Linked DNA regions of Homo sapiens: regions 1, 2, 4, 5, 6 and 7 are each linked to region 3. The links come from fine-mapping of genetic effects on gene expression. A gene starts in region 3. Each other region holds a variant in brackets. All regions are shown on one strand. Distances are from middle to middle. Region 1 has its middle 57 kb from the start of MIR4433A. Region 2 overlaps LOC100507006 (a long non-coding RNA gene). Region 3 holds the start of LGALSL (galectin like). Region 4 has its middle 61 kb from the start of LINC00309. Region 5 holds the start of MIR4433B (microRNA 4433b). Region 6 has its middle 33 kb from the start of MIR4433A. Region 7 has its middle 66 kb from the start of MIR4433A.

Evidence for each region.
Region 1: its variant is fine-mapped to the expression of LGALSL in whole blood (TOPMed, PIP above 0.99).
Region 2: its variant is fine-mapped to the expression of LGALSL in monocytes (Schmiedel 2018, PIP 0.95).
Region 4: its variant is fine-mapped to the expression of LGALSL in whole blood (TOPMed, PIP above 0.99).
Region 5: its variant is fine-mapped to the expression of LGALSL in whole blood (INTERVAL, PIP 0.99).
Region 6: its variant is fine-mapped to the expression of LGALSL in whole blood (TOPMed, PIP above 0.99).
Region 7: its variant is fine-mapped to the expression of LGALSL in whole blood (INTERVAL, PIP above 0.99).

The regions. Positions count from the first base shown.
Region 1 is chr2:64,281,366-64,285,432 of GRCh38, forward strand. No RefSeq gene overlaps it. Among named protein-coding and RNA genes, the nearest start is that of MIR4433A, 57 kb to the right of the region's middle. The variant G/A (reference allele first, on the strand shown) is at 1,620.
Region 2 is chr2:64,234,944-64,239,010 of GRCh38, forward strand. All of the region lies in intron 2 of LOC100507006 (a long non-coding RNA gene), which reads left to right. Among named protein-coding and RNA genes, the nearest start is that of LINC00309, 31 kb to the left of the region's middle. The variant CA/C (reference allele first, on the strand shown) is at 1,777.
Region 3 is chr2:64,451,723-64,455,789 of GRCh38, forward strand. LGALSL (galectin like) reads left to right here and starts at 2,440. Exons shown (of 5, transcript NM_014181.3): 1 at 2,440-2,859; 2 at 3,622-3,693; 3 at 3,867-3,955. The coding sequence starts at 2,824. LGALSL-DT (LGALSL divergent transcript) reads right to left here and starts at 3,156. Exons shown (of 3, transcript XR_002959392.2): 1 at 2,803-3,156. RefSeq lists silencers at 2,197-2,616, 2,627-2,696, 2,787-3,086.
Region 4 is chr2:64,264,765-64,268,831 of GRCh38, forward strand. No RefSeq gene overlaps it. Among named protein-coding and RNA genes, the nearest start is that of LINC00309, 61 kb to the left of the region's middle. The variant C/G (reference allele first, on the strand shown) is at 1,524.
Region 5 is chr2:64,339,972-64,344,038 of GRCh38, forward strand. It overlaps MIR4433B (microRNA 4433b), which reads right to left and starts at 877; the gene lies at 776-877. It overlaps MIR4433A (microRNA 4433a), which reads left to right and starts at 788; the gene lies at 788-868. It overlaps LOC105374768 (a long non-coding RNA gene), which reads right to left and starts at 1,738. Exons shown (of 3, transcript NR_189739.1): 1 at 1,564-1,738. The variant A/C (reference allele first, on the strand shown) is at 1,795.
Region 6 is chr2:64,305,972-64,310,038 of GRCh38, forward strand. No RefSeq gene overlaps it. Among named protein-coding and RNA genes, the nearest start is that of MIR4433A, 33 kb to the right of the region's middle. The variant A/G (reference allele first, on the strand shown) is at 2,395.
Region 7 is chr2:64,272,310-64,276,376 of GRCh38, forward strand. No RefSeq gene overlaps it. Among named protein-coding and RNA genes, the nearest start is that of MIR4433A, 66 kb to the right of the region's middle. RefSeq lists an enhancer at 1-427. The variant G/T (reference allele first, on the strand shown) is at 1,572.

The sequences.
Region 1 (4,067 bases), 170 kb before region 3:
TGTTATAAGTAATCTAGAGATGATTTAAAATATACAGGAGGATGTGTGTAGGTTACATGCAAATACCGCACCATTATATATAAGAGACTTCAGCGTCTTGGGACTTTGGTATCCAAGGGGGGATCCTGGAACCAACTGCCTATGGATACTGAGGGACCACTATACTTTAATCTAACAAGCCCTAGAAGCAAAAATGGGGATTGAAGAAGTAGCTAATAAGAGAAAAGGCAGTAGTTACTGGGATTTATTTACAATCACAATCGACTCTTTTCAAGGTCCACTTTGCCTTGAATGCTTTAAGTTCTAAGGGGCAATATTAAGTTTATTTGGGTTACAAGAACATTATGTAACCAGGTGACAAGGATCAGGCAATTCTGGTTTCAGGTTTTGCCCAGTCTCCCCTACCCTGCTTGCCGGATAAGTGAAATGTACAGATAAGACTGGTCTTATATTCTTATGTCAAGAACACAAGAAAATATGTAGGAATGAATCAGTCATAAGTATTCCGTGAGTTCTTAAGGAAATAGAAGTTCTGATCAGATGATTAGTAGCTTTATTACTTCTCCTCCAAGGAAATGAGTTGAACTAATTTTTAAATTAGTGGATAATAGGCTGGCCTCCTAGGAATGTCAAGGCTGTGGCTACCATAAGCAGGTGGGCTAAGCTGCTACCCAGCTTTCCCATGACCCCCTGCCACCACGGAGGGAAGGCACTATGAGATCACACACAACGCAGAATAAGCCTGGGATTCAGCCACCAGCAAAGCAAATGCCAACCTCTCCCTCTCCCCTGCAAGAAATAAATTTTAGAAAGAGTTTGATATCTCAAACAAAGCATCGAAATAGTCATCATTGGAGAAAACTAACTTACAAGAGTTTCTTAAAGTTATGATTGAGTAATTATTTTATTTTAAATTATGTGGGGCTTTAGGGCCCCTAAAGGACTTAATCTGGCTTTACATATACATAAAATTCTCTGGAGAACTCTAACTAATAGAGTGGGAGAGGTGGGCATTGAACAAATGGGGTGGGATAATACAGTATTTCTGAATGTTTACTGATGTCCTAGTTTCCTGTTATTTCTCCCCTTTGCCCATCCCTCAGGCCAAGCTGCTTGGCACTCGGTGCCCATTGCTTTAAGGTTGATGTAACAGAAAGAAATGAATCTTCCTAGCTCTGGTCCCTAAAAGGCTAAAAGCCCCCTGGGAACTGTATAGGACTCCAGTCATAGCCAAAATATTTGGGGGATGTGGGGATTGAGGAGAGCAGGGTCTCCCCTGGACTAGAAAATATCCCCCAGGCCTGTGGAAGGAGAGGTAGAGGGGACAGGAGGAGACCAGAGATGTCATCTGTCCTGAGGTCCAGTGGGGAGTGGGGTTGGGAAATAGCTGTGCAGTGGGTCTGAACAAACTGTTCTTACACAGCCAGGCAGAGTCCTGGCTCCCAAGTGAGACATGAAAGCCGCAAGGAGATTGCCCACCATTTGTGAAGGGGCACAGACACCAGGAACTCATCTGAGTGGTGATCTATGTGCCTCAATGACCTACAATTATGAGAATAAAAGATGTCTCATTGGACACCCTTGTGGACAGGTGACGGAAGACTGACAGGCCTTCACCA[G/A]CCTAATGACCTGGCACAACTTAACTGTCGAGGAACGCCAGAGAAGGAAAGAAACTCCAAGTTGGCTGAGATACGTTTCTACCACTCCATAGAATGGGAACTCAATGCTTTAGAGAAAAATATAGGCCTTAGTCACCTAAATTGTGACAAGTAGCCTGCAAGAGAGGGAAGGCTTTGAGGAACTGAAAGATGGCCATAAGAGTTTAATCCAGTGAGCAAGGGGAAGGCAGCCCAGGTGAGGTTGGAAGGACAGGCAGGGGCCAGATCACACAGGACTCTGTAGTGCGGGCCAGGGGATTTGTATTTAAGTGACATGGGAAGCTGTTTCAGAATTTTTAAGCAGTTCCTGTTCTTTAAAGTTCACATTAATTCTTGCATGGGGTTGGGGGGTGTCCTGAGCAAAGGTTAGGAGTGCAGTTGAAGGGCTATTGCAGTCTTCCAGTTGAGAGCAGATGGTGGCTGAAACCAGGCTGGGGGCAGTGGAGCAAGTGGATGGGTTCTTGATATATTTTAGTGGTAGAAGGAACAGGTTTTGCCATTGGGTTGGATGTGCGGAGTGAGGGAAAGGAAGAGTTGGTAAGAACTCTCAGGTTTCTATTTGAACAACTGGTGGGAAAATGAAGCCATTTACACAGCAGAGGAAGTCTGGGGAGAAAACAAGTGCCTGTGAGGAAATCCAGACTTTTTGAGATGCCTGAGTGATGCCGGAATGGAAATGTTCGGAAGGTAGGAAGGGTTGGTAGATAAGTAATCAACAGCATAGAGAAGAGGTCTGGGTTGAAGGTAGGGATATGTGTGTCATCTGTGTGAGCCTTTACCACTTATTGTTTTGTTTCATTTGCTTTCGCTTTTGCTTCTCCTCTGACCCTGCACCTGTGCAACTTCCCCTCCTCCGTCAGGTCTCAGCTCCAATGTTGCTTCCTTCGGGAGGCCGCCCTACTCCTACCCCAGTGTGAATTAGGCCGAGTTAGGCTCTCCCCCAGTCTTTCTGTTTAAATTTTTCCTTCCAAGCACTTATCATGGTTTGAGATGAAAGATTTATGTTTGCCTGTCCTTTAGCGATGAATCCCAGTCCACACTGAAATGTGTTAGAAAAAAATGACTTCATTTTTCTGTAATGAAATCATTTAGGCCCTAAATCTGAGGAAGAGAAGGCAGGAAGAAGAGCTGAGTGCAGATAAATTGCAACATTTATGGATCAGATAGAAAAAGAGACACTGCCGCAAGCAGCTAAGAAGGAGCTAGAAAGGAAACAGGGTGTCCGGGATGCCATGGGAGAGGGAGATGGGAGCGTTTCAGGACAGAGCACGTGTCGCTGTGTCTGATTCCGTTGAGGAGTCAAGCGTGTAAAGACTGGAGTGTCTACTGGATTTACAATACGGGGACACAGGTCCTTGGTTCCAGCAGTTTGTGTGGAGCAGTGCAGATAGAAGTCAAGTTGCAGCGAGTAAGGGAATTAATGGAAGGCAGGAATAAGAGAGAATATGTGAAGATGATTGTTCCAAGAAGTTTTACTGTTAGGAGAGAGAAACTAGGGCAGTAGCTAGGAGGGTATATGAGGTTAAAGGAGGATATCTCAGAGAGGCATGATCCTGACATATATCTATGTGTAGATGGGAACAATGGATTGAAGGGGTGGGATGGGGAGAAATAACAACAGAAGGAATCAGAGATGAACACAGAGAGAAGAGGAAGGGAGAGAGCAGGTGTGCGGGGTGTTGACTTGCAAAATGGAGCAAAGAAGGCTTTAAAGCCTACCCCAAGAGCAGCCCCCAGCCATGCCTAGATTAAGATGAGCCAGAGGGCTCCTTTGCAGCCCAAAGGGACCAGGGGGCAGAGAGGAAATGCCAGCTGCAGCTCTAGGAGGGGAAGCCATGGGTCTGGCTCAGTGGTAGTCAGTGGGTCGGCAGCCAGTCCCTGGCCCCTGGCCAGGCACATATTGGGAGCAGAGTGGCAAGTCTTCTGACAGCATTGTTGGAGAGGAAGGACCATGTGGGTGAGTGCTGAACAGCGGGAGGGCAGCCAGGACCAACTTCAGAGCCGAGCAAACTCAGTGGGAGCCTGGAGGAAGGGTTGGCAGGTGCCACCCCTGCTTCCTCTGTTTCTCTCTACTACATCATCTGCAACCAAAGGGATGGGGGTGCAGTTTAACTCATTTTTTGTACTACCTTTCAGGCCTGCAGCTCCGAGTGACTGCCCCTGCTGCCATCTGGAGGAATCCCCCTCCCCTTGGTGGCCCTTGTACAGGAGCAGATGGGCACAGTTGCTGGCTGCTTGGGAAGGAGAGCCAGGGAGACCTGGGAGCCAAGGGGCGTCTTCAACCCTCTGGCTTCGCACTGACTTCACCCCCGTAGTAGATAGCCTCAGGCAAGGGAGCAGGGGACAGCCCTGGCTGCCCTGTGAGGGGTCGGGGCTGGCTGAGCCATAGAGCCACAGACAGGAGCAGCC
Region 2 (4,067 bases), 220 kb before region 3:
AACAGCATGGTTTCCTCTTGGCCTTCAGGAAATCCTGTTATAATTCAACCAGTTTTGAAAATGACCTCTTTCTGCTCTACTGAGCTGGTAATGTTTCACTGGGTTAGAGTAGGCCAAGGTCATGTACAGTTCTATACTATTAGCTTAGAGGAGCATACTTTTAAATTTTGATTTCAAACATGTAACCTGACTTAACAGTGGGTCTTCCCACAGTGGGACCATGATAGTGGCAATAGAACTTTCACGTGTTTGGGGCTCTCAGCCAATGCATCCATGAGCCTGAGATAGAGCATTCCTGTGATTCCCAGGTCTGCTCTTCCTTGGTCCTCTGTGCCAACCCATGAAAAAACTGCATGCTATGACCAAATTCAGGATCAAGTTTATCCTGTCTAGAGCCAGCTCTCCAAAGGTGAAATTTTACCTTATTCCTTTGAATCTATTTTCTTGTATTTTTATTTTGGGATCTTTTAGTAACAAGGCAGCTTCCCGAGATTCTGTTGTGAGCAGTTCTGGAGTCGATGGGTATTTTTACATAGGTGTACATTTGCTTCTATTTGTGTGTGTGTTTGTGACCTACCAGAGGAAAGAGCCTCCATTTGCCTGGAAGCCTGGGATGATTTAATCTCTACTATTTGGGTTGCATTAATTAAATGGGGTGGATGTTTCAAATACTTAGCTATCTTAGAGATACAAAGGGAAGGTCTTTGAAGAATCTGTACCGTAGTGAAAGATACGTAAATAGTGTGTGCTGAGAAGAACGAACAGCCCTGTGGGCCAGGAACAAAACTACTGAAAAGAATTGGTGAAGGATTCATCAGCTTTCTAGGAAAAGGGCAGCATGGGTCTTTATTCTTCACTTTGTCAAGTTTGAGTCATGCCCATTTCATAAAGTATTTGGCCTGTGCTAAGTGTGGTTCAAAATGTGATATCCTTGTTTGATATCACAAGGTGACATGAAGCGGTGGATTAAAGGGAAGAAAACTACCATTTTAGAAAAACAACAGCAATTGAACACCTGAACGTACAAAAAAAAATGAGATTACTATTCATCTCTGGAAACCAAGTTTCATCAGAAATAAGAAAACGGAATACAATTTGAGACAAGTTCTTGGCTGTTGGGCTACTTTCAAGATTCCTTGACTATCAGAGCTCTATAGGGGATCCAAATGTAGCCTTAAGGGTTTTGTCTTGTCTGTTAAATTAATTCACCTGACGGCCGGGCCAGTGGCTCAGGCCTATAATCCCAGCACTTTGGGAGGCCAAGGCGGGCGGATCACCTGAGTCAGGAGTTTGAGACCAGCCTGGCCAACATGGTGAGACCCTGTCTCTACTAAAAATACAAAATTAGTTGGGCGTGGTGGCACGCTTGTAATCCCAGCTACTCGGGAGGCTGAGGCAGGAGAATTGTTTGAATCCGGGAGGTGAAGGTTGCAGTGAGCCGAGATCATGCCTCTACACTCTAGCCTGGGCGACAGAGCAAGACCCTGTCTAAAAAAAAAAAGCATGGTGGCTTATGCCTGTAATCCCAGCACTTTGGGAGGCCAAGGCAGGTGGATCACTGGAGGTCAGGAGTTCTAGACCAACCTGGCCAACATGGTGAGACCCCATCTCCACTAAAAATACAGAAGTTAGCCAGGCATGGTGGTGGGTGCCTGTAATCCCAGCTACTTGGGAGGCTGAGGCAGAAGAATCACTTGAACCTGGGAGGTGGAGGTGGCAGTGAGCCGAGATTGTGGCACTGCACTCCAGCCTGGGTGACAGAGCAAGACTCTGTCT[CA/C]AAAAAAAAAAAAAAAAAAATTAATTTACCTGACAACATGTAGGTATGAAAGATCAAAGCCAGTTGGGAGGGCTATACAGGCCGGGGACCTATTCATGTTTTCTGAGAGTGGGATCACTTTTTTTTTTTTGAGACAGATTCTTGTTCTGTCACCCAGGCTGGAGTGCAATGGCATGATCTTGGCTCACTGCAGCCTCTGCCTCCTGGGTTCAAGCGATTCTCCTGCCTCAGCCTCCCAAGTAGCTGGGACTATAGGCACATGCCACCAAGCCCAGCTAATTTTTTGTATTTTTAGTAGAGACAGGGTTTCACCGTGTTAGCCGGGATGGTCTCGATCTTCTGACCTCGTGATCCGCCCGCCTCAGCCTCCCAAAGTGCTGAGATTACAGGCGTGAGCCACCGTGCCCAGCCTGGGATCACTTTTTAAAAACAGCTTTTCATGGTGATGACTAACATGACAGAAAGTACGCTATCACAAACAATAATCCTAAACCAAGTTGTTGGATGAGGTTCATTAGCTTTACTTTTTTGACTATGATTATCTGAGATGCAGTTGACTTTAAGAATGGCCACTACTGAAATTCATCCTGCACAGCAAGATTTTCTTTAGGTTTCCTTTAGAAACATCATGGCTCCCTACCTTTTATTTCTAGCATTAACTTTGGAGGCGCTTTTACTCCTCTAGGAGTGCAGCCAAGCTGACCTTCTCAACCCTGAATCCTGTTATTTATGGAATCAGTGATTCTATTCATTATTAATTCACAGTAGGTCTGGCTTCACACTAATTTTAGAAGCTCTTTCCTCTTGTTACCAGGCAAAACAACAAATGGCCTGGTTTGCCTTTTAGGAGGTAAGAAACCAAAAGTACTCAGATATGACCTTTTAAGATTTGTGCTAATCTCGAAGGCTTGAGATCTTTCTTGGAAACATAGTGAAGAGGTCCATGATTGTTTTCTAAGATTATCACTCAATTGAACATATATTAAAACTCCCTGGAATCAGAAAAAAATACCATGACAAGTATCTTCAATATTGAGTCAAGAATGCTTTTTAGGGCCAAGGTGCTGCCATTTCCAGATGGCACCTTCAGAATTTCTTTCAATTTAGCATTACTAACATTTTGCTGCTTTGATTGAAGCAATGGTAAAGCAACTTGAAGAAATGGTAAAGCAATTCAATGTAAATAAATACAAATGCTGTTAAATGTTCATTTTTTGAAGTTGCTAGCTTTGTGCTCTTTGATTTAAAGGAAGGTTATGATCTCAAACCTGGATGAAATATCCTGTGTGAAGCCAGTTTTTCCCATACACAATTGCAAATATTAGGCCCTATAATTTTTTTTTTCTCAAGATGGAGTCTTGCTCTGTCACCCAGGCTTGAATGCAGTGGCGCGATCTCGGCTCACTGCAACCTCCGCCTCCTGAGTTCAAGCAATTCTCCTGCCTCAACCTCCCGAGTAGCTGGGATTACAGGCGCCCACCACCAAACCCAGCTAATTTTTGTATTTTTAGTAGAGACAGAGTTTCACCATGTTGGCCAGGCTGGTCTCAAATTCCTGATCTCCTGATCTGCCCACCTCAGCCTCCTAAAGTGTTGGGATTACAGGCATGAGCCACTGCGCCCAGCCTGGTCCCTGTAATTTAACCCCTTTACTGTATTAAAGCAAATAATTAAGGATGTATGCAAAGATTTAGTTACAAGTTGATACTGGCAAAAATGGGAAGTAAACTAAATGTTCAACTTTAGGAGAATAGTTAAACAAATAACGGCACATGCATACATTAAAATTCTTCTAGCTACTTGAAAAGATGTTGTAGAGGAATATTCAATGACATGATAAGATGACAAGATGTACCGACTAAAAGATGCAGTTTACAAAATAATATAGATAACATTAGTTTTTAACCCTTTTTGGGTCACATACCTCTTCGAGAATCTGAATAAAAATGCGCATTTACCTTGGGCTTCCTAGCTCCCCATCTTTACCCCCAGGAAAGTTGTGTGCTGTTACTTGATTCATGTAGATTCTTACTTGAGAATGGAATCAACACCTGAAGAATTAGCTGTACTGTATTATTTAACATTTTATTTATAACCTTTCAGCAATTTTCATAATCAGCATTATCCAGTCAGAGATGTCTTCCGAATCAGGTCCCAGGCTCTGACAGCCATGTTTTTTTTTAAGATAGATGATTTGTAGTACCTCTCCAAATTGTTTCACAATTTGGAATCTTCCGGTCCTTGCCTATTCACTATTGTAATTTTACAGCAGACTACGTCAGCAATAGCA
Region 3 (4,067 bases):
TATGTCCCTCCTTTGCTCAGAAACTTTTAATATCTTCCTATTTCCCCATGTAAAAGCCAATCCTCAACCACAGTGTAGAAGGGCTATCCATTTCTAGCTACACATCTCCTCAGTCACTGCCCCCAGCCCCAGTACTTGGGGACTTTGCCCTTGCAGTTCCCTGTGCCAGCAAACTCTTCCTCCAGATGTCCACATGACTCACCCCCCTCCTTCAGGGGTCTTCTCAAATGTCACTTTACCAGAGGTGGCTTCCCTGACCATCCTGTATAAATAGCATCACCCTACCTCCTATCTCTCTCTCTACTGGCTTTTTAATTATTTTTATTATTATTGAGACAGGTTCTCACTCTGTCACCCAAGCTGCAGTAGAGTGGTGAGATCACAGCTCACTGCAGCCTTGACCTCCTGGCTTCAAGTGATCCTCCCACCTCAGCCTCCCAAGTAGCTGGGACTACAGGTGCACACCACCACACCCAGCTAATTTTTTTTTTTATTTTTGTAGAGACAGAGTCTCTCTGTGTTGCCCAGGCCTGTCTCAAACTCTTGGCCTCAAGTGATCCTCTTGCCTCAGCCTCCTATATTGCTGGGATTATAGGCATGAGCCACCGCACCTGGCCTTATTACTTTTTCCTAACACTTTTGTCACCCGACATATTTTGTTTATTGATTTCCTTTGCCCACTAGAATGTAAGCTCAGCAAAAAAGTAGCCTGCTGGATCCCCAGTGCCTGGTATACAGCAGGCACTCAGTATTTTGGTATAATAAGTGCTTACTATGTCCCCAATACTGTTTTAAGGAAGGTATTTACTTAATCTTCCCAATAACCTGAGATAGGCATTATTATCATCATTGTCATCTCTGAGTCACAGATGAAGAAACTAAGGCACAGAGAAGTTTAGTAATTTTTCCAAGATCACACAGCTAGTGAATAGTAGAGCCAGGATTTGAACGCGAGACACCGGCTCTTTAACCACCATCACATGTAGTGTCACCCTTATTGTGTCACTCAGTTAATGATAAAGAACTACTGCACTTTAATGCTTCTTCTCTATACCAGACTCTCAGAAATTGATACATACTAAAGTATGCTTTCAAATGTCAATCATTTCCTATAAGTGCCTAACATTTTAAAGTAATAAAGTGTGATTTTGAGCTAAGACTGGTAAACAAAGTGTGCTGCAGCCACAAGCGTACTGCGCTTTAGCCTCTATCTAGTTCAAGAACCACTTCCAGAGGATATGAGTGAGGCTTACAGGCGTGTGCAGGTAATTCTCCCTGCTCAACTGAGATTACCATCATTAGCTCTGGTCCATAAAGGGAAAACTAAGACACAAAAGCCACATTGATGTTCTAGGCCACACAGCCAATTGCAGTGACTAGAAGAAAGAAGCCTCCCCGGGCGGCGAAGGTTGCAGTGAGCTGAGATCGCGCCACTGCACTCCAGCCTGGGCCACAGAGGGAGACTCCGTCTCAATTTAAAAAAAAAAAAAAAAAAAAAAAAAGGAGCCTCTGAGGGGCCCTCTGGGACTGCAGTAGGTCACACATGCTCCCTGCTTATTAGCATAGAACGCCCCGGTGATTCATGCAATGGAATGTTTCAGCCAAGGATGTCACCTAATAGAGGATATGTTGATACAGCTTTATCTGAGAAGTTACATAATCGTCCTAGTGTGGAAATGCCATAAAGGAATTTCTGGCTTGAATAAAAGAGGTGTGTATCCCCTGGGAAGTACTCCACAAAGGGTATGAGGAGATTTTCAGTGAGAAGCTGACTACCCCAGACTGGGCAAGTGACTTGTTAAAAACAGGGCTCAATGGAGGCTCTCTGAGGACAGTGACTGCGCCCACTTTGATTTGGTAAGGCTTTGACTCCTGCTCGAGAGAGTCCAGGGACCCCTAGACCTGCCTGTCCTTCCACAGGGAAGAGCGACCTTTCTGTATCTAGCCTCCTGGGATAGAAAGGTCCCTACCTTGAGTCCTCTCTGCTTCGTTCTTTCAGGTCACACATTTATTTCTGCAAGCCTTCAGACCTTCCATTCTCTTTCTGCCCTAGAGAGCAGAATGAATCCTTCCCCCGATTTTGTTGGAATTCTCTGAAAGAAATCCTGCCAAGTCTCCCACTCTGGAATACCACCCCCAGCACCCAATCTTCCCTCGACCTCGCCTCCCATCGCCCCACCAGCGCCCAGGACGTGGCAGGAGGAAGGAGGCTGGAGGGAGGGGCGCGGGTGGCACGAGCACCTGTCACCTGACCGGCTCGGGCCCTCACTTCTCCAGCCCCGGCCCTGCCCACCCTCTGGCCGGTGAGAGCCGACAGGGCCCCCGCCCTCCCGGACCCGGACAGGCCCGTCCCTCCCGCCCCGGCCTCCGCCACCGTCCAATGGCCGAGGGGCAGGGCCCGCTGAGCAAGCCGCGGCAGCCCCGCCGGGTCCCCGCCCTGTTCCCGGTTCCCGAGCCGGGCCCCGGAGGCCTTTAAATGCTGCCCAGGGCCGACGCGGCACGGCCCTCGCCACTTTTCTTGGTCGGGCAGCGGCAGCGGCAGCGGCAGCAAGCAGCCCCGTCGGCCCGGGTCCGGGGCCGTTCTGGGCCGCGGCAAGCACCTTCGCCCTCCCAGCTCGCGCTGCCTCCCTCCCCTCCCCTCCTCCCAGGCTCTGCCTGCCAGGTCGGCGCCGGGCCCCGGGCGCGCGCGCGCGCGCCCCCTCGTGTGTGCGCGCGCCCGCCGCCAGCTCGGACCCGCGCCCCCGCCCCCGCCCCGCGCAGGACAGCCCCGGGATCCCCGCCCGCGCGCCGCGTCCCACGTACCCCGCCGCGCCGGGCAAGAAGATGGCGGGATCAGTGGCCGACAGCGATGCCGTGGTGGTGAGTGTGGCAGGGCGCGCGCGAGGCGCCCCTCCCCGCCGTCCCGCACTCCGCCGCCGCCTGCTCCAGCAGTGCTGGGGTGCTGAGCAGCCGCAGGCCCGGCCGGCGCCCGGCGCGTGGGAAGGCGCCCGGTACCTGTTAGCAGCCGCTGGCTGCGCGCGGCCGGTGTTAGGGGCTGGAGAGGCTCCCGGGCTGCGGGGCTCTGGGCTGGGGAGGGAGTTTGGGGAGGATGGCGGGTAGGGACGCCCGACAGCCCCCTCTGTGCCGTGCAACCGCCAGCCAGGTGTGCGCGTGGGTGAGTGTGTCCGGGGCGCGCGCCCCGCCACCGCCCCCGACGTACCGGGGATTCCCCCTTGGAAATGGGTCGGCGCCCGGGGCTCCCGAGAGAAGTTGAGCACGGCCGCTGCACTTCAGTCACGTCCCGAAGGACAGGCCTGGCCCACCGCGCTTCCAGAAGCGTTTACGGTTGGAGAGGGGCCTGCCCTCCTCCGGCGTGGGGCTCTGGCTCTTCGGTGGACCTCGACCTTGATTTTGATCTGGATCTGAAGGGTCTGCGGATCTTCAGAGGCTTAACTACCGGGTGGAAAGGATGGGTTTTGTTCGGGGGTGATGAGATTATCTAAGAGACGGTGAAGAGGCATCATCTGCAGACACTGTGTGCATGTGGAAGGCTGCTGGATTCCACCACATCTGTGTGGGTTCTTCCTCCAGCCCCCCAAAAAAGAGCCCATGGAAAGCCAATCTGTGTACTTCTATTTTTAGAAACTAGATGATGGCCATTTAAACAACTCTTTGAGCTCTCCAGTTCAAGCGGACGTGTACTTCCCACGACTGGTAAATGATTTTGCTCTGTGTCTCTGCCTGTACCTTCCTCCTTTCTCATTGCTTTTTAAAATTTTATTCATTTGTTTATTGCATTTTCCAGTGGGTCAGGCCTTCAGGGTCTGAGGTCTTGGCTTTTCCCTAACAGGCTGTAAAATTCATTTTTCTTCTCCCACCCTTTTCAGATAGTTCCATTTTGTGGGCACATTAAAGGTGGCATGAGACCAGGCAAGAAGGTGTTAGTGATGGGCATCGTAGACCTCAACCCAGAGAGGTAAGGCAGAGTCTTTGTCAGGACAGAACTATCAGGCTGTGGCTGAGCCCTGCCCACTTCTGTTGTGGTTTAGCACTCCTCTTCCTCTCCTTGTGGACAGTGTTGCTAGTTG
Region 4 (4,067 bases), 190 kb before region 3:
CATATTGTAGAAGTTGCTAAACATTAAAGGGAAATACTTTTGAATACAAGTAAATTTCAGGCTGTATTATGCTCTCCCCTTCCTCTGTTTGTTTGAACACTCTTTGACAGTTGAATTACATTGCAGACGGTCTGTGAAGTGAATGGTGGTCTGATTTCCTAGGATCAGTGCATAAAAGAAGCTTTTTCTTTTTTGTCCAGACAGCATTTTATTTCAGGATCAATGGTGGCTGATGCATGGTGCTTATTCTTAGTCGTGACATGTTCTTGAAGTAAAAAGAGAATTATTTGTAAGCCTTTGAAGGCCCATTCAGGTGTTGGGCACGCGCTGCAGAGCTGGGCTGTGGACCCAGCCCATGGAGGGAGTGAGCATGCATGGTGTCTCAGGAGCGGGGTAGATTTGAGCTAAGACCTTACTTTCTCTCACCCAGACCCTCCTGTGGCAGTCAGCGCAACATGGAAGACAATAAGTTTGGAATTAGGAATGAAGCCTGCAGCTGCAGGCCAGGCAAGCTGGAATCATAACTACAGCCCAAGAAAATGAAAACTGACCACTAGGGTGGGGAGAGGAAGGGCAGTGGGCTTGTTGAATTGATGCTTTCCTTTTTCTCTGAGACATGCTGGCTTCTTTCCCCCTTTGGGAATAGGCTCAATGTCTTGGAGACAGTCTAATTACTTTTTATACATTCATAAAGAAGTTTATTTTTGGTAAAGACACTCAAACTAGAATATACTTGATTGGTTTACACTGAAAAAGTAATTTGGGACTCATCACTCAAATTGCATTAAAAATGCTGAAATGCATTCCAGTCATTATCTAGTCTAGCCTACTTCTTACTGTATCAGAGAGATGGAATAACATCCAAATTACTAGTCCTGCATATATTTTATGTTCCTAAATCTGAACTAGTAAGAGAAAAACTCTCCTTGTTAAAGGGAATGTTAACATTCACTAGGAGGTTTGTACATGGACTCCTCCCCTCCATCTGCAGAGTATTGTCGAGGATCTGAATACAGAAAGGACATAACACCCTTGTCATCTGTGCTAGGCATAGCCAGACCTAGAGGAAAGGGCAGTATTGCATCTGCATCAGTAAGGGGGCTACCAGGGAAGCAGAGGGAAGCGGAACATAGGGAAGCAGAACCAGCAGGACACACACACACACACCCCCACCCAAGTCAGTTCTTGCTATTCGTGATAGCAGTGTTCTATAAAGCTGTCACAAACATTGAAATAGCAAATGCTGAACCATTGCTCCTAGGGGATCTACAGGGTTAGGTTCCTATGAACCTCTGGTCACAACATTTTCATCAACTGATCAAGATATTACCTTGTTTTATGTGTGTTTCTGTTTAAAGACACCTTATTTAATATATACTGTTGATGCATTAACATTGAACTCATGGCCAAAACATTACCACCCATGCCTGAATGAAGCTTATCTAACACACGTATTTTCCCTGTGAGGCACATCACAGTCTTCTGGTGCTTAGAAACACCAGACAACACCTCAGCACTACACT[C/G]AAGGGTCATTTTAAACAATGAAATCACCAACAAAAAGCACAAGAATGTGAAAATCATGGCACTAAATGAACTGTGAGAAGGACAGTTGTTTACAGTATGAGAGCTGAAACATGAAAGTGCTGCCTCAATTGACTTCAGCTGAAAAATTTGTGCATTGGGTGACTTAAACTTTTCACTGCTTTGAGCATGTCTGTGATTGATTGCGGAAGCACTGCAAGTATTGGTTTTGGGGTTACAAATGAATTTTAGAAAGTAGGCAAATTTCCAAATACATAATCCATCGATAATGAGGATCAACTCTACATTACAAAAGTTTTTCAAGAATTGGCTTGTGTGATTGTGGGGACTGACAAGTCTGAAATCTATAGGTCAGGCCCGAGGGCTGGAAACTCTCCCACAGGAGCTGGAGCTGCAATTGACAGGTGGATTTCTTCTCCTTGGAGAAACCTCAGTTTTTCTCTGAAAACTTTCAACTGATTACATGAGGCCCATAGAAATGATCAAGAATAATTCCTTTACTCAAAGTCAGCTGATTGTGGATGTTGATCACATCTACAAAATGCCTTCGCAGCAATACCTAGACTAGTGTTTATTGAACAACTGGGTACTATAGTCTAGCTCATTTGACACATAAAACTAACCATCACAGTACCCAATTTAGAGCTCCTGGAAAGCAGCCGCGGAAGAAATCTTCCCTCTATATTTTCCTAGATTACTATGAGAGAGCAGTAGCCCCTCAACCCTGTCTGCTGGCCTGGGTCACAGTGTTTGTTCAGCATACTCTGAGGCTCACTCTGTAGAGGGACCTTACTCAAAGCACTGACCATAGTGTGGGTGATGAGAGATCCTTTTTTTCAAAGCATTAAAAAGGGGTAGAGACTTAAGCCTCTTCCCTGGACTCACCAAATATGACCTTTCTTTTGCCCATTGTTTTGGGCTGTTTTTTGCTGTGAGTCTCTTCCAGTAGCCAGTTGCTCAGCTTCTGCCCTGGAATTAACAAGAGGACTTTGACTGCTCCCCTGATCAGTGGGGGCTGATGTGTCTTCTCAGCAGTGTTATTGGGCAGTAGCAGTCTTATTGCCCAGGCTGTAGAGTACAAGGCTTTCTCCTTCCTCTTGGGACCATGATGTTTAGGAGAAAAAGAAGGAGACACCTTAACCTATACTCTATCCCCTTGATATTCAAAGTGTGGTGTATAAGCCAGCAGCAGCAGCATGACCTAAGAATGTGTTAGAGATGTAGAGCCCCAGACCAACTGAATTAGAATCTGCATTTTCTGTGAGACTCATATTCACACAAAAGTTTGAAAACATACTCTAGGTAGCTATCTGGAGACTTCTGGTCCTTTAGCCCTCATTGTTTAGGTCCTGAGCCCTGACCCATTTTTCCACCTATTTTGAATTGGATATCCCAGAATAACCCTGCTCCCCCTGGCACGGGTGGATGAACACCCCATCCTGCTTCTTGCAACTGGCAGCCCTTGAATATCCCTACCTGCCAGAGTGGCCTGCATTTTTCCTTCCCTTGTTTGGGCATGACATCCTATATCCAGGCCCTCCCCAGGAACACTACTTCTGCCCCATCCCACTCTGTGTTCCTGCCAGCCCTCCACCCCCTAGAATTCCTTTTGGATTCTGCATGCCAGAATATGTAGGGAAGAGTGCCTGGAATTTCCTCCTCAGAACTGACTTAAATGGATTCAAACACTGGTGAGCACAGTTCAGAGAGGAAGTAGGATTAGCTGAGAGATTCAAGGAACAAGGGGTCAGTTTCTGAGTATCCCACTTCTGAGGTGAACATAAGACTCCATTTAAGCTTCCACTGCCTCAATTCTAAGTTGATGGGAAAGCTACCTTTGAACATTTCTGTGAAACTCATTAAACTAGTTTGAAATCTTAAAGGCTCTCCATACATTTGCTTTTGAGGCCAGTTTAACAAGGAATCCATGGCCAGCAAAGAGTTATGCTGCTGACTTTACTAGAACTCTAATGGTCCCTTTTGTTTTTATTAAACGTGGAATCCATTAACCTGTCATTATGGGATATCCCCATGCTATGGAGGCAAATGGTTAATTGAGTGGCACACCTTTAATAGTATAGTCTGTAATTATAAAAGCTATTTTTAAAACCCCACATATGAACATTACCAAAGAAGGAGGAATTCTCACCATGAAAACCAGCTTTCGGCTTGGACAGCAATTACTCGTATTTCCTTTCCCTGGCATCAGGAAGACAGGAGTAGACAATGGATTGGTTCCAAAAATAATCTCAAGCTTTTCCCACTTACAGTATGTCAATTGCCAGGCTTGTCTCCCATGTCTCCAGAAGTGGAAAAACATATACATAGTCACAAACTGCACAATCAACTCCAGCCTGCAATTTGCTGAGGGTCATTTTCTTGACTGGTCTGAATTACCACGTGGTTAATTTGATTGTCATTGCATCCAGCTGGACTAAGTGCAGGTCGATAGATGTGCGAGGTTACTTGAGCAGAGCAAATTAATTATACAAGTGAATTAACTTAAACATGCTTGGAACACCCTG
Region 5 (4,067 bases), 110 kb before region 3:
TGTTGATCTTTCAGCCTTCGTCACTGCTATCCTTCCCCTAAAGGGCTTGCCTTCAGCCTCTCTACCCATCCTGGTTCCCCCAGTGCTTTGGAACCAGGACAGACACACTCTGCTCCTAATAAGCATTTCATAGTCAGCCCCAGCCCAGAGCTCTCCTTATCATTCATTCATTCATCAAATATTTTTTGAGCATTTACTTTCTTCCAGGAGCTGTGCTAAGAGATATAGTAGCAACCAAGGAACATTCCAGTAGGAAACAGACAGGTAAGTAGATGGGTTTAGTATAGTGTGAGAAGTACAATACAAACACACCCAAGGATAGATCCAGATTGAGTCTTGGACAGTCGGAAAGACTTCCAGGGGAAAAAAAATGGCATCTTTTCTTCATTTCCACACTTAGCAATTTTTCTATATTGGTTTGTCATTTATTCATTTAATCACCAATCATTTATTGTGGGCTGGGCACTGTGCAGAGATAGTAATCAGACTTGACTTGAGGACGATAAGAAATCACTGAAGGGATTTTAAGCAGAGAAAGGACATGATCTATTTACACTGGTAGATGTCACTTTGATTGTAGGAAAAGTGGACCGGCCAGGGCAAGGCTTGAGGCAGGAAGCCAGCTAGGAGACCACTGCATGAACCCACATAAAAATGAGGACCTGGGCTAGGGAAGTAGCAGGAAAAGTGGATTTTGACAGATATCTAGGACAGAGCCAACAGGACTTGGACAGCAATGGGATGTGGGGGAGTAAGAGGGAATAGTTTAGGATGATGTTCTTTCCCCCATCCTCCTTACGTCCCACCCCCCACTCCTGTTTCTGGTGAAATATTCAAACAGGAGTGGGGGTGGGACATAAGGAGGATAGGGAACACAGGATGAAGGGCAGGTTACAGGGGTCCACGTGCGAGGGGAAGATAATGTGTTCAGTTTTAGACATGCTGAGCTCATGATTCCAATTCCTTTGGACATTCCAGTGGAGATATCTGGCAGGCTGATTTTTCTCACGAGAGAAATCATGTCTGGAAATACAGATCTGAGAAGCAGCAGCAACATATGGGTGGCCACCAAAGCCGTGGACTCAGTCAGCACCATTAAGCCAGAGTGATGGGTGAGATGGGTGACAAGGGCCCCCCTTGCAGCAGGTGGGTGACAAAAGAAGAATCAGTGTTGCAGCATGGGAAGGACTGCCCAGAGAGAAAGGAAGTGAACCAGGAGAGGATCTAGAAAAAGGACACTGGGCAATGAGAGCTTGGAGCGGGCCTCTGCACCAGGGGAGGGGTGGCTTTGACTGGCAGATACACATGTCTAGTACACGTGGAGGGTATGAAAACTCCAGGGAAAGAGAGGGGCAGCAGGAGCTCCCTCTTTTTGTAAAACAGGCTTTCTCTTAGGCGTAGCCTTCTAACTGATCTGCCCCACTATCCTCAACCCACTCTCCACTTCATAGCCAGATAGGTCTTTTCAAAACACATCTCTGATCACATCACCGCCTCTCCCCCAGCTCTATTAAAAACCTTTGGATATTTCTATGGCTCTTAGCATGCAGACCAAACTCCTACCTGGCCTGGCCTCTACTTCCTTCTCCAGGTGCACCTTCTGCCAGACTCTCTTGCTCTCTCCCCTGCAGCCAGCTGGCTTCCATTCGGCCTCGCAGACTCGTTGCATGGGTGTTACATTGTTGCTGTCAGAGCCATGTCCACCCTTCCCATCCCGTGGTCCCCCGATCTGCTCTGTGTCACTGGGGGCTGTTCCAGGCTCCAGAGCCAACTGCCTTCCAGTAAAGTTCAGCC[A/C]ATGGGGAGTGAGGGAGGGCAAAAGATATTGGAGGTGAAGGAAGGAGAAGCCAGAGTACTTCTCCTGCTTCTCTTTCTCAGGAGTCTCTTCTGTGGCTGCAGTTCCCACTACACAGCCATCTCTGTGTGATCCCTGCTACCCATCTTGGCAGGCCCTCTTTGTTCCAGCTTATCTTGTCTTAGGCTCCAGAAACTGTTTCTTTCCTTGTTCTCCAGCTTCCAGGGTGGTGCTATGGGTTGAATTGTGTCTCCCCTGCAAGTTCATGTGTTGAAGTTCTAACCCCCAGTACTTTAGAGTGTGACCTTATTTAGGGTTGTGGTCTTTATAGAGTAGCCGAATTAAAGTGAGGTCATTAGGGTGGACCCTAATCCAATATGAATGTTGTCCTTATAAAAAGGGGAAGTTTGGACAGAGATAGACACACACAGAGGGAAGACGATGTGAAGAGACATAGGTGAAAATGGTCATCTACAAGTCAAGGAAAGAGGCGTGGAACAGATCCTTCCCTCATAGGCCTCAAAAGGAACTACCCCTTCTGACACCTTGATTTTGGACTTCCAGCCTTCAGAACTCTGAGACAATAACTTTCTGTGTGAAGCCACCCAGTCTGTGGCACTTTGTTACTGCAGCCCTAGCAAACAAATACAGTAGTCCCAGCTTCCTGGAGTTGCTACTCTCAGGGTTCCCCTGGGAGCTCTTTCAACTCCTCTGACTCCCCGTATGAAATTCCCTCTATCAAATCACCTAGAGTGGGTTTTGCTTTCCTGGCTGGGTCCTGACTAATATGCCTGCCATGATCCTTTCTGCCACAGAGGACATAGTGCTTCCTCTGCCTGGTATTTTTCCCCCTCTCATCTTTACCTAATGAACTTTCCCTAGTAAACTCATCTAGGTCATAGGTAAATGTCACTTCCTCAAGAAGGCCTACCCCTGTATAGTCATTACCAGCTCTTATGGCTCCAAGCACCACCACTCATGGTTTTGATTTTATTTCTGTGTGTGATTATTAGTTAATGTTTTCTTCCCAGTCCATCAGGAAAGGTAGTCTTTTTTTTCTTACCACTTTCCCCAGAGCCTAGGATGATGCCTATAGTAAATATTTAATACACAGTCATGTGTGACTTAACAACGGGGATACCTACTAAAGAATGCATTGTTAGGCAGTTTCGTAATGAGAGCATCAGAGTATACTTACACAAACCTAAATGGTGTAGCCTGCTACACACCTAGACTATCTGGTCTAGCCTATGGTTCCTAGGCTACAAACACCTATAGTACGTTACTGTACTGAATAATGTGGGCAATTGTAACATAGTAGTATTTGTGTATCTAAGCACATCTAAACATAGAAAAGATACATAAAAATATGATACTATAATCTTAAGAAATCACCATTGTATATGTGGTCCCTCATTCACTGAAACATTGTTATGTGGCTCCTGACTATATATTTATTGAGTGAACGGAGGAAGGGTAGTATAATTTTGTAGATAATGCTAGTATTTATGTGCCAGTAAAGTTCTAAGCATCTTACAAATATTGCATTTAATCCTTTAATCCTCATAACAATTTATGGGATAAGTAATATTACCTCTATTTTACACATGAGTAAATTCACTTATGATCCCATAGCTAGTAAGGATTTGAACCCAGGGACTCCAGCACCAGAGCCTGAACTCTTAATCACTGTTATTCTGGCCTACGCTGTTCTCCCATGTTTTAGCAAGTCTACAAATTTTGTTTGTGCTAGCTTGCTATTATACTATGCCTTGTACCTCTTATTTGCAATGAATTATGTTTAACTTGACATGATATTAGAAAATTTCCTGGACAAATGTTTTCTATGCCAAATAGCACCCCAATAATATGCACCTTGAGTTTTAGCAAAAATTTGGTGACAAACCTATGAATACACAGTCCCAGGATGGTGAGGTTCCTGGGTATCTCACCATCTTTTGTGGTTCTGTGAAATCTGCCCACCTCTCTATAAATCATCCCCTCATTAAAATCCCTTCAGCTAAACCCTTTGGGAATGCCATCTTCCTTCTGGGACTCTGGCTGATACCCTGCAACTTCCTGGGAGCATCCCCTGGCTTTCTTATGTGTTTATGGCACGTGACATTACCATGTGACTGCAGTAGCCTGGGCTGCCTCTCCTGTGTCCGGCAGCTGTTGGCACCACCTTATGTGTGGAGAGTGCCCTGTGTGCTCAGAACACCCCAGGTACTATGGGGAGATGCCCTGGACCAAGACTCTTCATATTTCATGAGCA
Region 6 (4,067 bases), 150 kb before region 3:
CCACTAAAGCAAACTATAAACAGACAAGAAACAACACAAATATGTTATTTAGAGACATAGCAATAAATCCCAAATAGCTAAAAAGAACTGAAAGTGACTTCTGTGGGGAAGGGAACAAAAGATTGCCTTCTAGGACTATTTGTCTCTTTTATTGATGAACATATATAAGAATAAAAGTGACCAACTGACTAGTAATAAAAAAAACTAAATAGAAAGTCTTTAAAAAGCCATTGGAGTGAAAAGCTCAAGAGATGGATTAAAATAAGAATAGACATAAGTCCCTATGGAGTTTTTTTGGTTCAATAAGTAAAGTAGGGAAAATTAGAATGAGATCATGTGGAGCAAGGATCTTGAGCAGAAAACCGAGGCCTGTTGTGCAGAGTAGGGAAATTTCTAAACCAGTTACCACTGCGCAGCTGCCTTCTACAGTCTGGCTAAAGTACCTAGAGGGAGGGAGGGAGGGAGAGCAACCAGTAGTGCCACCTTCTCTCCACCTTTGGAGAGGGACTTGATTTCCAGCACCACCTCTCTGCCCTGCCCACACCAACAATAACCATTAACATTAATGTTCCAAGCATTTTACATGTATTAATGTATTAGCATTTTATCCTCACAATCATAGTATAGGTTAAGTATTATTACTCTCATAATTAAAACTAAGGTCCACAGAATTAAGAAAGAAATTTTCTTAAGGGCACTATGCTGGGAAGCGGAAGATTTGGGATTTGAACCCAGGTGGTCTGTCTTCGGAGTTCACATTCTCAACTATTGTGCTACAATGCATCTTGCTACACACACACACACACACGCACATCCCTAAAGTCTTTGGTAAAATAGCAACGAGTTTATCTTTGAAAACAAGAATTCCTTCCATATCACAAATGAGAGTAAGCTGAAAGCAGAAGGAACAGAGGAATGCATAATTATCCATTGATTTCATGTATTCCCTACCTCATTTTCAAAAAAGGTATGAATCAGTTTCCAAAAATGTCATATATAGTAAGTAAAAAAAATGAGCAAAAATTTTAAAAATAGACTCAAAGTAAGTGGATAAATAAATGTGCCAAATGAAAAATTCAAGAAGGTTGCTGTATCTGAAAATAAAACCTGTATATGAGCTTCCTGGCAGCCAAGATAAAGAAAGAAATGTAAGTAATTGCACAACTCTCATTATAAAATAGGAGATAGTTGATTGAACGTTTATGTGATGTGCAAGTTAAGTGCATGATAGAGGAGGAATAGGAGGCAGAATATCATGTAATTAGTTATATATTGAGTTGCTGTGATTTTGGAGAAAGTTACCACTTTTCTTTCAATTATTACGAAAGTAAATTTGGAAGAGCCTCACATGGCCCTTATGTTTGTCTTGAAGATATGTGGACTGTTTCTAGGTTCACAACACCAAAATCACAATGCAGATTGCTGTCATGTCATTAGAGCCATCCTTACAATGAATCAAGCTAATGCCAGGTGAATAAGGAAACCAACCAGCAGAGGTCCAGGTGGGACATAAACCCAGACCTGGAAAAATTGAATGTAAATGTGTTTCCCATGCTCATGGGGCTTGTTGGCCAACTCCACTTCCTCTGCTGTGCAGAGGAATTGATCGTGCAGATTTTGTAAAGTGTGGTATTCTTAAGTCGAACTGGGATGGAGGCCAGCGGTATACTGGCAGCCAAACGTGCCAGACATCTGAGTTGAGAATAGAGTCCTTAAGGTGCTCCTGGGTTCTTGGGTGCTCTGGGAAGACAGCACCCACAGCCACAGTGATATTTAACAGAATAGAAGATAGCCGAGCAATGAGCAGCTAAAGCATTAATATTTGTGTTTTTCCTCTCTCATTGACCTGATAGTCCAAGTCTCCCAGACTATCAAAAAGACTTGGATATTAACAGGAATTCAAATAATCATTTGACATTACCTAGGTGGTACCTGATGGGGCTGAGCCACTTTTAGCACAAGTCATCACATTCTCCCCAGTGGCCCACCCTGTCTCTCTCTGCCTCAGCCAAACTTTGTGAAGGGGTTGTCGACACTTGCTGACCCTACTTCTTTATCTCTCATTTAATATTCCAGTGAAATTGCTCTTGGTAGAGTAGCTAGTGACCTTCTTGTTGCCAAGTGTGCACATCTCAGTCCTTGTCTTACTTGGTCTCTTTGCAGCAGAGGATTTACCTTTTCTTTGCAAACACTTGTTTCTCCTGGCTGCCACAACTCCACAATCTCATCATTTTTCTTCTCAGGCTCTTTCCCTGGGGCCTTGGGTTTTCATTGCCCTCCTCCTGCCTGGGAGTCTGGTGCCTGTGAGCTCTCCAAGGGGAGCACTAGTCTGTTTGCCCTCCAGAGTTTCTCCTAGTACCTAGCAAAATGCCGGACATGTAGGAGGTGATCAAT[A/G]AACAATTTTGGAAGAATGAACAAATGTGAGTTTTATTCATATTTATTTTGGATTTATTATATGTCCTGACAACTACAAAAACAGGATTGGAGGTGGTTTACAGTGTTAGAATATATCTAAAAACATAACAAAAGCTTTTTTTTTTTGAGACAGAGTCTCGCACTGTCGCCAGGCTAGAGTGCAGTGGCGCCATCTCCGCTCACTGCAAGCTCTGACCTCCTGGGTTCAAGCAATTCTTCTGCCTCAGTCTCCTGAGTAGCTGGGATTACAGGCACAAGCCACCACACCCAGCTAATTTTTTTTTTTTTTTCTATTTTTAGTAGAGACGGAGTTTCACCACATTGGCCAGGCTGGTCTCCAACTCCTGATCTCGTCACCTGCCCGCCTCAGCCTCCCAAAGTGCTGGGATTACAGGCATGAGCCACTGCGCCTGGCCAACAAAAGCTTTAAAAAAGAGAAAAATAACAGAAACCAAATAAAAGTGAAATGAGATAAACACACCAGATTGCTGGGATGAATTAGTTGCTGCAATTGAACACTAAATTTAGTGCTGAGCTTCCTGGTAGGCAAAGCAAAATAAGCAATACATCAAGTTGTATAGTTCTCACTGGCAAATAAAAGGAAGCATAAATGTTTGCTTATGGATAGAAATATTTTCTAGCACTAAACATCAGTAGTTGTTTTATCATGTTTACCTTTAACAGAAGGTAACAAATGATAGTCAAAGATACTGCTCAATATCTTACTTTTTTTTTTTTTGGAGACAGAGTCTCACTCTGTCACCCAGGCTGGAGTGCAGTGGCATGATCTTGGCTCACTGCAACCTCCACCTCCTGGGTTCAAGCAGTTATCCTGCCTCAGCCTCCCGAGTAGCTGGGACTACAGGCACATGCCACCATGCCTGGCTAATTTTTTGTATTTTAGTAGAGACGGGGTTTCACTGTGTTGCCCAGGCTGGTCTTGAACTCCTGAGCTCAGGCAATCCACCCACCTCGGCCTCCCAAAGTGCTGGGATTACAGGCATGAGCTACCCCGCCTGGCCTCTTTATATTACCTTTTATATAATAAGTAGTATATTATAGGTACTATATACAAGATAATATACTGGGCAGTGTCTTAGACTATCATTTTCCAAAATATATGAATGCTTCTTCAAACTGTTCCTTTAGACACCTGGATGATACTAACAGAAGGGGTAAGTATTCCAAGACACATCATAGTTGTGTCATTAGGGAAATAGATTGGGATTAGGTGAAATAAACTTCTGGGTACCAGGCACCCAGAAGATACATGCATAAAATGATCCCAAACATCATGGCTGTCTTGCTCTTGCTGGAAAGCCTAAGTAAATTTGAGTGGAGCCTGAGGAAGACTACCTACACCTGTACTGATTTTCACAGGGAAGCACACACAGACATCCTCCTTCTGTTTTCCTCCAGAGATTTAACACTATGGATTCATAAAAGCCCCAACTTGGAAGCGGGGACAATCTGTATTCTAACAATCAGAGCCCCTGGGAACATGTGATGTTAAAGTCCCAAAGGGGAACGGGCACGGTGGCTCACGCCTGTAATCCCAGCAATTTGGGAGGCCCAGGTGGGTGGATCACGAGGTCAAGAGATCGAGACCATCCTGGTCAACATGGTGAAACCCCGTCTCTACTAATAATACA
Region 7 (4,067 bases), 180 kb before region 3:
AACTGACTAAGGTCAGCTTGTCTTACTCCATGGCTCCTTCCTATTCATTAATAGGTATTCAATTAATGCCTGCTAGCTGAGGAAAGATCCCTCTGCTGAACTGGGGGGAAGCAGGGTTAGGAAACTTGTAGGTAGCCATTAAAACCCTGTTTGGAATGTGGCCTACACCTTGGGAACTTTTGCGTGTATCTGTTGACTTGTTTTTTTGTTGTTGTTTTTGGAGACAGAGTCTCGCTCTGTCGCCCAGGCTGGAGTGCAGTGGCGCGATCTTGGCTCACTGCAACCTCTACCTCCCAGGTGCAAGCAATTCTCCTGCCTCAGCTTCCTGAGTAGCTGGGACTACAGGCACATGCCACCACGCCCGGCTAATGTTTTTGTATTTTTAGTAGAGACGGGGTTTCACTGTGTTGCCCAGGCTGGTTTCAAACTTCTGAGCTCAGGCAATCCGCCCACCTCGGCCTCCCAAGGTGCTAGGATTACAGACGTGAGCCACCGAGCCCGGCCGACTTGTTTTTAAATCAATTACCAAATTCCCACTGCTATCTAAAATGACACAGCCACTGCTATCTATTGGGTCCTAGCCCAAAAGACTGTACCCAAGAGACTCTGCCACTCACACAGGAGAATGTAATCTTTAACTAATTAGGTTAGGATGCACAAAAAAGTGTGGGAGGCTGGACGCTAATATAGCTTAGACTTGAGGAAATGCCAGGGTGATGGGTAACTTGCTCCATGTGTTACTTGCAGGCTTCAGACCTGCCAGATGTGCATCTCATAGGCATTTCAAATCACACCATCACCTGCCCCTGCAAAGCTGTTTTGCTCTCTTACCCTCTCTCCTGCCCTGCTGTCTCTCTCTCTCTCTCTCTCTCTCTCTCACACACACACACCCCTTAGTGTTGTGCTTTCTTTTGTTAACTCTTTTAATCAGACTTTGATTTTCTAGATCTGTATGTTTCAATTAAATCCTAGTCTCTTTTGGACATTGAACTTGCAGAAGTTTTTTCCTGTATCTTCAGTTCTTGGTTCTTCTGATAAGTGCCTAAGGAGAAACAAATAAACAAACATGAACAAAGAGATAAACAGCAAAAACCACTCCCGGAGGCCTTCACATGGAACCCATTCATTATGTAACAACAAAAGGCCCCAAACAACTGCAGACCAGCATGACATATCGATGACTTATTCTTTTTAATATTAATGACAGTCTGAAGGAAGTTGTGGTGACAAGTCAGGGATTAATACTGCTATCTCTTTATGAATATCTGATCTATTAACACCACTGGGCTTAATGGGATTCATGAGTCTCAGTCACTGTCATGTCATTGCCCATATTGTGCAATCAGAGATCAGTTTTGCAATGGCTGATAAAAACAAAGGCCCAGAACCAAGGAGTTCCAGCAGAGAGGAAGGAAATGAAGCTTCCTGCTGGCTGAAGCTGCTCACCCAAAAGAAAGGGAATTAGATAAAGTGAAAGGTATTTCTCAGAGATGGGCCCAAAGCTGCTTCTGTTTCCTTGTGGCCTCAGGCTGGCTCTAGCTAGTAGGACACCATGACCCAGAGTAACTAAA[G/T]GGAATTATTGGCATCCTCCCACGAGCTCCTACCAGGCCAGTGCCAGAAACACTCATCTACTCCCTTATGGAAGATCACTGAGTCATGAGATCTGTGGTTTGTCTGATTCTCCACTTCCCGAAGCCAGCCAAGGCTAACCGACCTGGGATTCTGAGAGACTGTCCAGGTGAGCTCGGGTGCTTCAGTAGCAACTGGCCTTCTGGGTGTGCCCCAGAGCAATTCTGAGTCCAGAGATCGTTTCTGGCACCACCCTCAGCTCTCTCAGGGTTCTGGGAACCCAGTGATCAGAGGCTGGCTGGCTGTGAGATGTTCTTTCTCTTACCCTGTGGTGGGCTCCACATTGCAGTCACTTCATGCCTGCTGCTAAAAACCTAGGCCAGGCTTATTACCTTTCATCCAGACCAGAACTGAAAGCAGTTTCCATCTCCTGGGCCAATTCCAACTAATTGGTAGTGGCTGCCCGAGCACTGTGTAGAGAAAGATTTTGAGTTCAGCAGCAGAGTGTGGTTGTCCATTGGTGACGATTGCCAGAGGCACAGGTGGGTCACTGCAACTTGCATTCTGTGTGTTTACTAATTCTGATCTGGACCATTACATCAGCCTGCTAAGTGGTGCACTTACCTCTATTTCCTTCCAGAAAAAAAGATTAATCTTCCAGAAGCATTCTTTGATAAGAGCCTTATCAAAAAAAATTTCAACTCCACTCCACTTTAGCAACTCAGACCTGTTCTACATTTGTGATCAATCCTTCTCTCTCTCTCTAGCATATATATACACACATATGTAATTATATATACACATACAATTCTATATAATTATATATGTATGTATATGTATACATGTGTGTGTCTTCTGTGACTCTTGCCAGCAACCTCAACCCACTTTCCCCTTCCTTTTGCTATGTCAGTCTTGCAAACCTTTCTCTGTGAATCAGTTTTCTCTGTGAATCATTTTCCCTCTTTCTTCCTACTCAAGGACTCCTGAAGGAGGCTAGAGGAATACACACTCTTGTGGTTTGGGTTCTACACAACCTGGGGCCTCTGACCTCGGCTGGGTTCTTAGCACAGTGACCCCTCACAGGCCCCTGGTCAGCATCCTTTCCTCCTGTTCTGTTTCTCTCTCATCTTAAACCCTCACTGCTGTGTTGCTGTCCCCTCCCCAACCATGACCACCTTTCTCTTGGCAGACCACCAAGGCTCCTGTCTTAGTCATAGTCTATATTTTATCATAGAATTATAGAATTCTGTAGTCATGCAGGTGCATGGCTACACCATGCCTGGCTAATTTTATGTAGTTTTAGTAGAGATGGGGTTTTGCCATGTTGGCAAATTCTATAATTCTATAATAAATTGTAGAATTTATTCTATAATAATAATTTATATTTATTAATTAAATATTTATAATAATTATAATTCTATAATAAATTCTATAATTTATTATAGAATTATGGTGTTCTATAATAAAACACCATAGACTGGGTAGCTTAAAAACAGACATTTATTTCTCACAGTTCTGGAAGCTGGGAAGTTCAAGATCAAGGTGCCAGCAGATTTGATTCCTAGTGAGGACCCATTCCTGCTTGCAGATGGCCTTCTTCTCACTGTGTCCTCACCTGGCAGAGCAAGAGAGGGCTCTGGTTTCTTCTTCTTATAAGGGCACCAATCTCCTTATGAGGGCTCCACCCTGATGACCTCCCAAAGGCTCCACCTTGCAATGTCTCACACTGTGGATTAATTAAGGCTTCAGCATAAGAATTTTGGTAGTTGGGCTGGTGTTCACAAACATTCAATCTATAGCAGCTTCTATTTCACAAACTCCCTGAATTCTCATCCTCAGAGCTGCAGGCTCTTCTGCAGCCACCTCACCTTCCAAGCCCTCTCCTGTATTTTCAAAGAAAAGCTGAATTCTCACCAGCCCAGAGCCCTCACTGGTGCTCTAGCTCCAGTCTCTCATGAGCCTTTGCTGTCTCCATTATTCCTTTTTTCTTCTTCTCTGCATTTCTGGACCCTCCCTTGCAGTATGGGAACATGGTCAGTAATCTTCCTTTAAAATAAAATGCTCTCTTCTCCTTCACAGCTGAGCTCCTGCAGTTGATTCCCTCATGACCCCGTCCACTTACCTGCCTTCTCTGTCCATTTTGCAACAGGCAATATCACTTTTCCTAGCTTTCTTAACACCAGGCCTTCTGGATTCTCCTCTTTGCCCTTTGATTAGTCCTCTTCTACCTCTATCCTTTATTTTAAAATTTTTTTTGAGATGGAGTCTTGCTCTGTTGCCCAGGCTGGAGTTCAATGATGCAATCTCAACTCACTGCAGCCTCCATCTCCCAGGTTCAAGTGTTCCTCCTGCCTCAGCCTCCTGAGTAGCTGTGGCTACAGGCGCATGGCTACACCATGCCTGGCTAATTTTATGTAGTTTCAGTAGAGATGGGGTTTTGCCATGTTGGCCAGGCTGGTCTCAAACTCCTGACCTCAGATGATCCGCCTGCCTCAGCT